Linked DNA regions of Homo sapiens: region 2 is linked to region 1. Evidence: fine-mapped expression QTL. A gene starts in region 1. The other region holds a variant in brackets. All regions are shown on one strand. Distances are between the middles of the regions.

Region 1 (5,371 bases):
GTGCAGGCGATCTTGGCTCACTGCATCCTTGACCCCCCGGCCTCCCCTGCACAGTAGCTGGGACCAAAGGCATGCAAGACCACACCTGGATAATTTTTGTATTTTTTTTAAAGACGAGGTTTCTCCATGTTGCACAAGCTGGTCTTGAACTCCTGAGCTCAAGTGATCTGCCCACCTCGGCCTCCCAAAGTGTTGGGATTACAGGCGTGAGCCACTGTGCGCAGTCAAGCTGAAACTCTTAAGCAAATTTTAAATCTTACTTTAAGGAACAATTTCCTCACCTGTAAAATGGGGACACGAGGATATGATGGAAGTGAAGTCACTTTGTAACTGGTAAAGCTCTGTACAGATATTAGTTAAGATGGTTAATTTCATTAACCTGTGAAGATTCTTAACTAAACCTTGCGCAAGTTGCATTGGCTGCCCTGTCTAGGCACTAATATCTTTAGACGGACTAAGGAGGAAACACACTTTTTTTTTTTTTGAGACAGAGTCTGGCTCTGTCACCCAGGCTGGAGTACAGTGGCATGATCTTGGCTCACTGCAACCTCTGCCTCCTGGGTTCAAGCAATTCTCCTGCCTCAGCCTCCTGAGCAGCTGGGACTACAGACTATGGCCAGCACACCCAGCTAATTATTTGTATTTTTAGTAGAGATGGGGTTTCACCATGTTGGTCAGGCTGGTCTCAAACTCCTGACCTCAAGTGATCCACCCGCCTCAGCCTCCCAAACTGCTGGGATTATAGGCGTGAGCCACCGCACCCGGCCTACACGCTTCTTTTCACAAGAATGACACCCGCAACTATACTTCCCACGTAAATGGAGAGCAGTCTGGCAGATTCATCTAGACCTAGGGTTGGGTGATTATTAGGGAAAGAAAAGGTCCAACCAAGCCAGTGGGCTGAAGAGAGGACATGACCTGCTCAGTCCGAAGCAGATGTGTGACTAAAGTCTAGTCTCCTGGCTTCTCTGCAAAATACCTCATTATCGGCATTATTAACCCTAACAACTGCCATTTATTGAAATCCCACTATGTGCACGAATGGGGACCAATTTACTTCTAGATATTACAACAATCTTGTATTACTGTGCCCACTTCCTGGATGATGGGTCTGAGGTTCACAGAGATCATTTGCCCAAGTTCCTACTGAAAGTGCTAAGGTATTTCCTGAGACTGGCTCAGGGTGTGTTGCCAGACAACAATGCACACATTTTTAACACAATACTAAACTTAGTATATTATACTTATGTTAAAAATTTCGGAGCCGGGCGTGGTGGCTCACGCCTGTAATCCCAGCACTTCGGGAGGCTGAGGCGGGCAGATCACTTGAGGTCAGGAGTTCGAGACCAGCCTGGCCAACATGGTGAAACCCCGTCTCTACTAAAAATACAAAAAATTAGCTGGGCGTAGTGGCGGGCGCCTGCAATCTCAGCTACGCGGGAGGCTGACGCAGGAGAATCGCTTGAATCCGGGAGGCGGAGGTTGCAGTGAGCGAGATCGTGCCACTGCACTCCAGCATGGTCGACAGAGCGAGACTTGTCTCAAAAAAAAAAAAAAAAAGGACATGTGGTAATTCCCCTAGGGAATTTGGCCTTAGTTGTGAAAAATAAAAAAGCTATAATCAATTTCTGTTCTATCGGAAAAAAATGTATTGGCTGTTTAGCTGAAATTCAAATGTAACTTAACATCCCGTATTTTTTATATGCTACATCTGGCAACCCTGGCTTGAGGCTACCTGGCAAAAATCAAAACAGGTTCCTCCTTGTTATGCCCTATGCCTCTGTTGCCTTTATTTTTATCTTTACGAGCAATCATTAACAGTAACTTCAGACTCCAGGCTCTGGTCGCTTTAGGAGGCGGAAGGCGGACTAGGGTAGGACTCCTGGCCCTCATCAACAGGACTGCCAAGAAGCCGGGCACCTTCTGCCCCGCACAAACATGGCCGCGCCTCGCCGCCGAGGATTGGCTCCCGCCGAAAGCTCGTCCTCCTGGCTAAGGGAGCCCCTTCCATTGGGCAGTTAAAAAAAATGGCGGACCCCGCCTCCCGCCGTCCTCGGGCGCGGGGGCGGAGCCTAGAGGAGGCCTGGGACAGGGCCACCAGTGATTGGCGGAGAGCGGTGGTCAGGCCATCACGTGGCCCGAGGCCCGTTTGTTTGCGGAAGTAGGAGGAAGTAGAAGTGCTGAGTAAGCCGAGGTGAGTGACCTCGCGGGTGGGCGGGGCCTGGGGGTCCGTTCCCCAACTTCCTCGGCGCTCCGGACTCCCAAGTCTCCGCCGGACCCTCCTTTGGATATTCCTCGTGTCTCCGATTCTGAGGCATGTCCTCCATTAACCCTTATGTGACTCCCTGAGTGCCCCCACCTTCCATCTTTTCATCCCCCTGCGTCCCCAATTCCCATCCCGAGACCGCCCGTGTCTCATCTCGAACTTGTGGACCCCAGGGACCCCAGCTTCGACCCTGAGTTTCTCCCCTGAACCCCAGTCTCCTCCGTGTGTCTCCCTCAGTATCCCTAACTTCCCGAGTCAATCCATCTCTTCTCTTTCCCCGACCCTCAGTGCCTCTTTAGGCCCCATTGGCCGTCCTAATTTTCCTTCCTGTGCTCCTCTAAGTGCTCACTTGATTCCCCACTTCACGTCCGTCTCCACCTTTCGTGGTGCCTCTACTCATTTCTCACTCCCTGCTTCTCCTGCCTTTCCTCCCTGCTTTTTTTCCTTGCCTTTCCTCTCTCGCGTGCCTCCAGACCTGCCCCCGACATGCTCCCTCCTTCCCCTCAGCCTGGCCACCCCAGAGTCTCCCACCCCTAATCCTGTGTCCACCTCCTGCTCCCACAGATGACTTGGAAGCTGGTGACAGGGAGCATGTGACCAGGGTGATCATGGGACTGGGTCGGGGCAAGCCTGTGGGTGTGGGACAGGGAGGGCACAGGGCAAGGGGACCTGTGGCCGTATTTTTAATGGGCTACCCACATGACCCCAACGAATACCTCCCCCTAGCTTCTGGGTCTTTCCCTCACCTGCCTCTTACCCGCCCAACAGGATGTCAGGCAGGTTCGGTTTGGCAACGTTGAGGCTGCACCCTTGGGCTGAATGCATTGTTTTTGAATGCATTGTTTTTGTTAGAGTTTCTGCCTGGAGTTTGGAACCTGTTTTCTGTCCAAGTCTCAGTTTCCTCATCTGTGACAGGGGAACTGTACCTCCTGCCCTCGTAAGTCTGCCATGAGGTTCAAAATTTGAATGAGAAAATGTAGAAGGTAAAGCTTTATAACCAGTATGGCCCTGTACAAATACATGATTTTACTGTTGGGTCATAGGCAGAATTGAAAGGAGTGGAAAGGGAAAGGGCTAGAATGAGAAGACAAGGAGAGAAGGATGAGCAGGAGGTCCCTTGTCTTTCAGTGTATCATTTGGCAGTGTTTGTTCATCACCTCTTGTGAGTCAGGCTCTTCTGTATATGTTCTCTTCACCATTCATTCAGTCATCGTTTATCTAACAAATATTTACGGACTGTCTGATGTTCTAGGCTACCCTTGGTGTGGCCAATGATATTCTCACTTCACATGAGAAAAAGAGGGCGCATGAGTTGCTTGAGGTCACACCGATGAGGTTGAAGCTGGAATCTGACACCAGAGCCTGTGTGATTGTCCTGATGTGTAAGGTTTGCTACTGTTTAGGACACTTCTTGTTCCTTCCGTGGATTACTTTCTTGTTACATGAGAGACTCCCCAAAAGGGAGTTTCCCTCTTACTCAGCAGAATGACATCACTAAGAGATACAGAAAGGAGAAATTTAAATACTCTGTGTGTGTGTGTGTGTGTGTGTGTGTGTGTGTGTGTGTGTGTCTGCAGACATCTATTGGGTGTGTGTGCTGGGGGAAGTAGGTAGGCAAGGAGTAAGGGGCCGTAGTGAAGAGTGTGTTACAAACTTCACTTTGTAGAGGGTGGCTCCCTGGGAGAATATGTTCTGTGTCTTTCACAGTGGATTTTGATAGGGTCATGTCTTAAATGCCTCTTCTCGTTTTCGGATGGTGATCTCATCCAGTCTTATTTCTTTAAGTGCCGTCTCTATTCTGTCAGCCCACAAATTTATATCCCCAGTCCAGTCCAGACCTTTCCCTGGAATGACATACTCAAATCTAGTTGCTTACTCAGCACCTCAAACTTAGGCTTTTCAAACTTGAAGTATTTATTTATTGATTTATTTATTTTTTGAGACAGAGTCTCACTCTGTCACCCAGGCTGGAATGCAATGGCACGATCTCGGCTCACTGCAACCTCCACCTCCTGATTCTCCTGCCTCAGCCTCCCAAGTAGCTGGGATTACAAGCATGCGCCATCATGCCCAACTAATTTTTGTATTTTTGTAGAGGCGGGGTTTCACCGTGTTGGCCAGGCTGGTCTCGAACTCCTGATCTCAAGTGATCCACCTGCCTTGGCCTCCCAAAGTGGTGGGATTACAGGTGTGAGCCACCGCGCCAGGCCTCAAACTTAAGAGTTTAGAATTGAGCTCCTGTTAGTTCTGCCCTCCATCCCTGACCCCACTCTTCACCAAAACATGTCCCTCCCACTCTCTTTCTCATCTTAGGACATAGGAGTATTGTTCATTCAGTTGCTCAGGTCAAAGCTGTGAGATTATCTATGATGCCTCTCTGTTTCTTACCCCACACCCAGCCAGAGTGATCTTGTTAAAATGTTGTTTCTTTGCAGTGGCCTCTCCTCTCATGGCACATGCCTGGCCCCCTGTTGCCTCTCTGATGTCACTGGCTTCCTTGCTTTTCCTGGAACTCGCTAAACATGTTCCAGCCCCATGGCCTTTGCACACGCTCTCTTTGCCTAGCTATTCATATGACTTTCATCTCTCTCCATCAGGTATTTATTTAAGATCAATTTCTTGGTGAAGACTTCTCTCCTCACCCAATCTAAAATTTCACTCTCCACCTCAGCACTTCCTATCCCCATTCTCTGGTTTTTCTCCTCAGTAGTTAATTGTCATCTAAAACCTTTGTAAATATTTACCTGTTTATCTTCTTTATTATTAGTAGCTCTGTCTAAAATATAAGTTCCAGGATGTCAGGGATTTTGTGGGGTTTTTTTTGGTTGGTTGGTTGTTTTGGTTTTGAGACAGGGTCTCACTCTGTTGCCCAGGCTGGAGCGCAGTGGTGCGATCTCAGCTCACTGCAGCCTCCGCCTCCTGGGTTTGAGTGATTCTCCCACCTCAGTCTCCCAGGAAGCTGGAATTACAGGTGCACGCCACCACACCCAGCTAATTTTTGTATTTTTTGGTAGAGATGGGGTTTCACTATGTTGGCCAGGCCGGTCTTGAACTCTTGACCTCAAGTGATCCACCCGCCTCGGCCTCCCAAAGTTCTGGGATTAC
Region 2 (5,371 bases), 54 kb after region 1:
TCCTCTGAAACCATGCCATGCTCTGCGCCCCTGCCCGGCCTCCAGGTGTGGAAATGTGTGACGTTCTTCGTGGGGACACTCCCCCGAAGGCTGCCATTAGGGGCACGTGTGTTCGGTTACCCCTCAGGGATGACACCCTGGACTGGGTGGGCAAGATGGCCTTCCCTGCCCTCACCCACCCTCTCCTTGCTACTCCTGAAAGCCATCAGCAGCTGACCTACTGTGTCCCCATGGCTCCTGGGTCGGGGTCACAGATGCACTGCATCTTTGGAGGCGGAGCTGGCAGAGCAGGGGCGAGTCACTTCTAGTTTCTGCCTGGGTTCTTACACCCTCCCCTGTGGGTGCTTTTAAGCCTGTTTGTCAGGTCCCCAGCCATCAAATGGCAGACTTTGGACTACCAGATTGACTTGGGTGGGGGTGAGGAGGGTTCCAGTGTCTCCCCGTGCTGAGGAGAGGCCCGCTGGGTGAGTTGACAGGTTGGGGCTGGCAGCCAGGGGCCCCTTTGTTCTTCACTTCCCCGGCAGTTGCACGTCTTATCCTCTCTCCATCTCCAACAGAAAGACAACGTGGAGATGATCAAGGCCCTCATCGTGTTCGGAGCAGAAGTGGACACCCCGAATGACTTTGGGGAGACTCCTACATTCCTAGCCTCCAAAATCGGCAGACGTATGTGCTCTGCACTCTGGGGCTGGAGTGGGGTGAGGGTTGGGTGGATACAGGGACCGAGGAGGAGGGAAGTCCCAGGCATCAGGTGCCAGCATCCTGTGCTGACCCGCCCTGCTCAGAGCTGCCAGGAGCACCTCGTACTCAGAGAGGGGGCTTCCTTACCCAAGCACAAGGGCCCTGAGCAGTAGATGCAGGCCCACCACGGGGCTTGCTATACCAGCATCCTCTCCCGTGCAGCGCCCCCCACCTCAGGGAGCTAAGATTCCCAGCAGGGGTGGGGACAGGAGAGCCAGCAGCAGCCTTCTTTCCCCACCGTTGGGGAATTCACTGATGGAACCACTGGCTAGAATGACCAAGGGTGCATGCACTACACTGCACGAGCTCTGGGCATGCCTGTGTGGGCAGAGTGCATGGCCATGTGCTGCACGCTCGCACAGTGAGCCTTAGCTTCAGAGCTGGACAGAGCAGATCCTCCTCACCAGAGGCCTGGAGCCCGCTCTGGAGGGTTTCAGCAGCTGTGGGGGTCACTGTGGGCAGGTACCTGATGGCAGCAGTGTGTGTGTGCCAGTGCACACGTGTGTGTCTGCATGCACCGCATCTATGACCTCCTTTTCAGCAATCCCATCCATCAAATGGAGTAGGTGCCCCCTGGCTGGCTCATTAGTCCCTTTGGAACCCTGAACTATCACTTAGCATTTTTGAGAATCACTGAATGTGGCCATGGGATTCCTGCTTTCTTGGCTGGAGTAGAAGGAAAGAAGGGGTTCCCACAGGCATCGGGCAGGGTGACACTGACCTCCTCCTCCCATATCCTCCTTCCCTGGCCTTAGGAAGCTGCTTGGGATGTACCAGCCTGGGGGCAGCACTCCCTGTCAGGGTGGGCTGAGGCCTCTGGAGCAGCCCACGTGCCCAGGGCCTGGGAGCTGGGACAGGGGACGGAGTGTGGAAAGGAGGGGCCTCTCCTTTGCATGTTGACATCATTTCTGATCCTGTGCCATCTCCCCTTCCCCAAACCATGACAAGTTGTCACCAGGAAGGCGATCTTGACTCTGCTGAGAACCGTGGGGGCCGAATACTGCTTCCCACCCATCCACGGGGTCCCCGCGGAGCAGGGCTCTGCAGCGCCACATCATCCCTTCTCCCTGGAAAGAGCTCAGCCCCCACCGATCAGCCTAAACAACCTAGGTAGGCCTCGCCTCCCGACTCCCTCTTCTCCAGCTGGTTCCCAGGCCCCTGGATCACAGCAGGCCCCACCAAAGCAACAGGATCCCTAGGACGGAAGTCACTAAAGGAAGCCGGGGAGGATGGGGCCGGAGTTGTCAGCCTCTAGGCAGCCAGCAACCCACAGATCCCAGAGGCCTAGGGTGTCCCTGGCTGATGTCCCATGCTCCGTTGCCCCTGAGAGGATGTGTCCTGCACACAGTCTCAGGCCTGGGCATTTCCAGTGGCACCCATGAGGTGGCTGCTGTTACTGCCCTCCTGTCCCCAGGGCGTTCAGGGTGGGCAGTGAGGAGTGCTGTCGGGGGACTGGGGGCCCGGGCCCTCTGGCTTCACCTGTCCCTCTGGCTTCACCTCTATCACACTGTTTGAATCTCGGTTGGGCCTGAGACCTGTGTGCCCCCTTCCTGGCCCCGTGGTGACTTTCAGACGTTGAATGTGGCCAGGCAGCCAGCATCTGCCCCGGTGCATTCCTTGGTGCCCAGGGAGACATCCCCAGACTAGACAGGACCCTTCTCTGGACTTTCTGTGGGCTGGCCCACTCAGGGACCTCCATTGTTTGGGAGCGGGGTCCCCTGAACAGAGGGCAGCCAGGAGCCAGTCCTTGGTGAGCCAGACTTCACTGTGGAGGCGGCAGCACCTTCAGCCAGGGTAGCCCGACCAAGCCTGGAACTCTGGAGAGGCACCGTGACTGTGGCTTCTAGTCCTGGCTCCACCTCTCTCTCCCCTCCCAGGAACTCCCCCTCCACCTCCCATCTTTATCTCTCAATTTTGCAGGCAGTCACCCAAGCCAGGCCGGATGGTGGGCCTGGGGTGCGGCGTCAGATGGGTAACGCCCTGGGCCTGGAGAGGCCACCGAGCCTAGCCATGCGGCATTAGCTCTAGCTCTCACTCCCTAATCCGTCCTTCTTAGCTGCGCACACACCACACGCCCCCTCCCCTGCACCCTGTCCCCGGCCTCTCTCAGCCACTCTTCTGCTTCCCTTGTTCACTGTGGAGCCGTGTGCCCTGGGGAGGGGGAGACACCGCTTCGCAGCCCTCGGTTCTGCTTTGCTGCTTCTAGACTCTGCACAGTGGTGGGGGGCTGTCAGAGTTGGGGTCACGCGGGCTGCTGCACCAGGCACCTGGGGACTGGGCTGCTTGTCAGGAGGGGCAGCTAGTCAGTTGGGTGGACGTCAGGCAGGCCTTGGACACAAAGGAAGACATGGACAGAGTGGATGGTGGGCCTGATCCCGGAGGCCACTGGGATTTCCAGACCTGGGATCAGGACGAGGGATGTCTCCTTTCATCCATGGACTTAAACCCCGAGGAACGTCCTGACTCAGCCTTTTGACTAAATGACCTTGGGTGAATTATGGACCCTCTTAGAGCCTCACCTGTCAATAGGGAATAAGAATTCTTAGGCCCCAGGTGGTTATTGCAGCATCGGCTCCGATGCAAGAAGAAGCACTTTGTCTGAAGAG[G/A]ACACGCAAGGGTATTCATGCCTTGGGGTTTCAAGAGGAAGAGATTGAGGGGAACCTGGGAGCTGGCTGGGCAGGGTGGGGAGCCCTTCCCAGAGCAGTGGGCCCCCCTTTCCACTCCAGCCCATTTCTCTCCTGTGGCCTGTGGCTCAGCTTTCTCCTGGGACAGAGTCCTTCCTGTGGGGAAGGGACAGATGACAGGGGGAGTGGGGGGATGAGGGCGTGGCCGTGGGCGAGGCACAGCCCAGGTTTGATCTAGGGACCTCTGGGGTAGCAGGGCTTGGGGACCCACCTGACCACAGCATGCCCTGCTCTGTGCCTCACAGAACTACAGGATCTCATGCACATCTCACGGGCCCGGAAGCCAGCGTTCATCCTGGGCTCCATGAGGGACGAGAAGCGGACGTAAGTGGATCGAGATCGGGGGCAGAGCGGGGAACGTGTGCGCTTTCCTGCCCCTCACCCACCCCCTGTTGTGGGCTCAGGGCTTTACTCTCTGCACCCTCACAGCCGGCGAAGTGGCTCTGCTCCTAGTCTTATAGTTCTCAGCAGAGACAGAACATGGAGAGCCTGTGTCGCTCGTTCATTAATGCTGGGCGGTGCAGGCTCTGGAGACCAGCCCAGGGTGCCAGGCTTCTTGGACTTGGTGGGGCTGGCGCAGTGTTCTGGCCTCCCTCCCTGATCTCCTTATGGCTAGAAGAGGGGGAGATGCCTGGGTCCCCCCTGGGGAGATCTCAGCAGCTGCTTCCCACTGCTCCTACTGGCTTCCTTAACCACCTCCCACTGCAGAATAGTGGCGTGGGCTGCCTTCCCCAGCACCTGCTGTATACCTAGTCCCATTGTAAGAGGCGGGCCTGGGTGACAGGATGCAAAGAGAAGACGCCCAGGCCTTGCCCTTCAGGCATAATCCCGGGTGCTTGAACTCAGTGCCAGCTGGCACGGCAAGGTACCAGGACAAATGCGTTTCCAGCCACTGTGCTGTCGCCACCTCCCTTGATTGCTGCAGTTGATTCATTTATTCTTTATTAGTCTCTCATGTTCCTAATAGCCTTCCCAGGGAGGAATTTGTAACCTTGTTTTACAGATGCAGAACCTGAGCCCCTGAGAGGTGAAGTGACTTGCTCAAGGTCACACGGAGTGAGTGTCAGGGTGGCAACTCACAGCCGGGTCTTCCGAACCCACGTCCTTTGTGCTACCGCAGGCTCTCTCTGGGTTCTCTGTGGACTCTATACCTAGTGCCAGCCCTCTGCAGGGAAAGCTCTCTTCTCAGAATCAGAGGCAGCTCCACTCCCAGGGCCAGGCAGTGATCGTGCAGCTCTGTGGGTCCTCTCACTTCGCACTCACTTCCATGCTACCCTGTTGTGTGCCCTGGAGGTTCCCCTGCCCCATCAGCATTCCCTCCCCTGTGCCCCCTGCATGCTCTTGCACGCGGGCACACGCACACACACACGCACACATGCACGCACACACACCCACATGCACATGCCTGCGGGTTGCCCACATGCATGTGTTGCCCACATGCAAACACATGGACACGCACACACATGCACACATGCAAACACACGTGCATGCACACACATACACATGCGCACACATACACATGCATGCATGCACATGGACACCCACACACATGCACACACATGTACACACATGCATGTACATACACACACCTGTGCAGGGGCTGAGGTGAGGCAGCTGCACCTGAAGGGGGGACCCACATTTCCCAAGGGAGGAAAAGCAGATTCCCCAGATTCTGGAGCCTCAGAACCCTGCCTGGAGCGGGGCTGAGGCAAGAGTCAGGAGACCCCTCGGTAGCTCCCCACTTGGGCCTTCCAAGCTACAGAGCCCTGCGCCCTCTGGGTTGATCTCTGTCGCCAGCCCCGCATCTTCGGGAGTTTGCTTTGGCCTCCAGCAACAGTGTAGTCTCTCCCCTGCCACCTCTAGGCTTGCTGTGGGGCTGGGTACCTGGTCCAGGAAAAGACCCCTAGAGGTGGGACCCGGGCCTCCTCCATTTATCAGCCCTCTTG

Evidence for each region.
Region 2: its variant is fine-mapped to the expression of PLA2G6 in whole blood (TOPMed, PIP above 0.99).

Annotation. Positions count from the first base shown.
Region 1 is chr22:38,178,607-38,183,977 of GRCh38, reverse strand. PLA2G6 (phospholipase A2 group VI) reads left to right here and starts at 2,148. Exons shown (of 17, transcript NM_003560.4): 1 at 2,148-2,314. RefSeq lists enhancers at 1,876-1,985, 1,902-2,196, 2,146-2,595, 3,226-3,295, 3,576-3,745.
Region 2 is chr22:38,124,749-38,130,119 of GRCh38, reverse strand. It overlaps PLA2G6 (phospholipase A2 group VI), which reads left to right. Exons shown (of 17, transcript NM_003560.4): 8 at 558-666; 9 at 1,690-1,851; 10 at 3,671-3,749. Among named protein-coding and RNA genes, the nearest start is that of BAIAP2L2, 17 kb to the right of the region's middle. The variant G/A (reference allele first, on the strand shown) is at 3,348.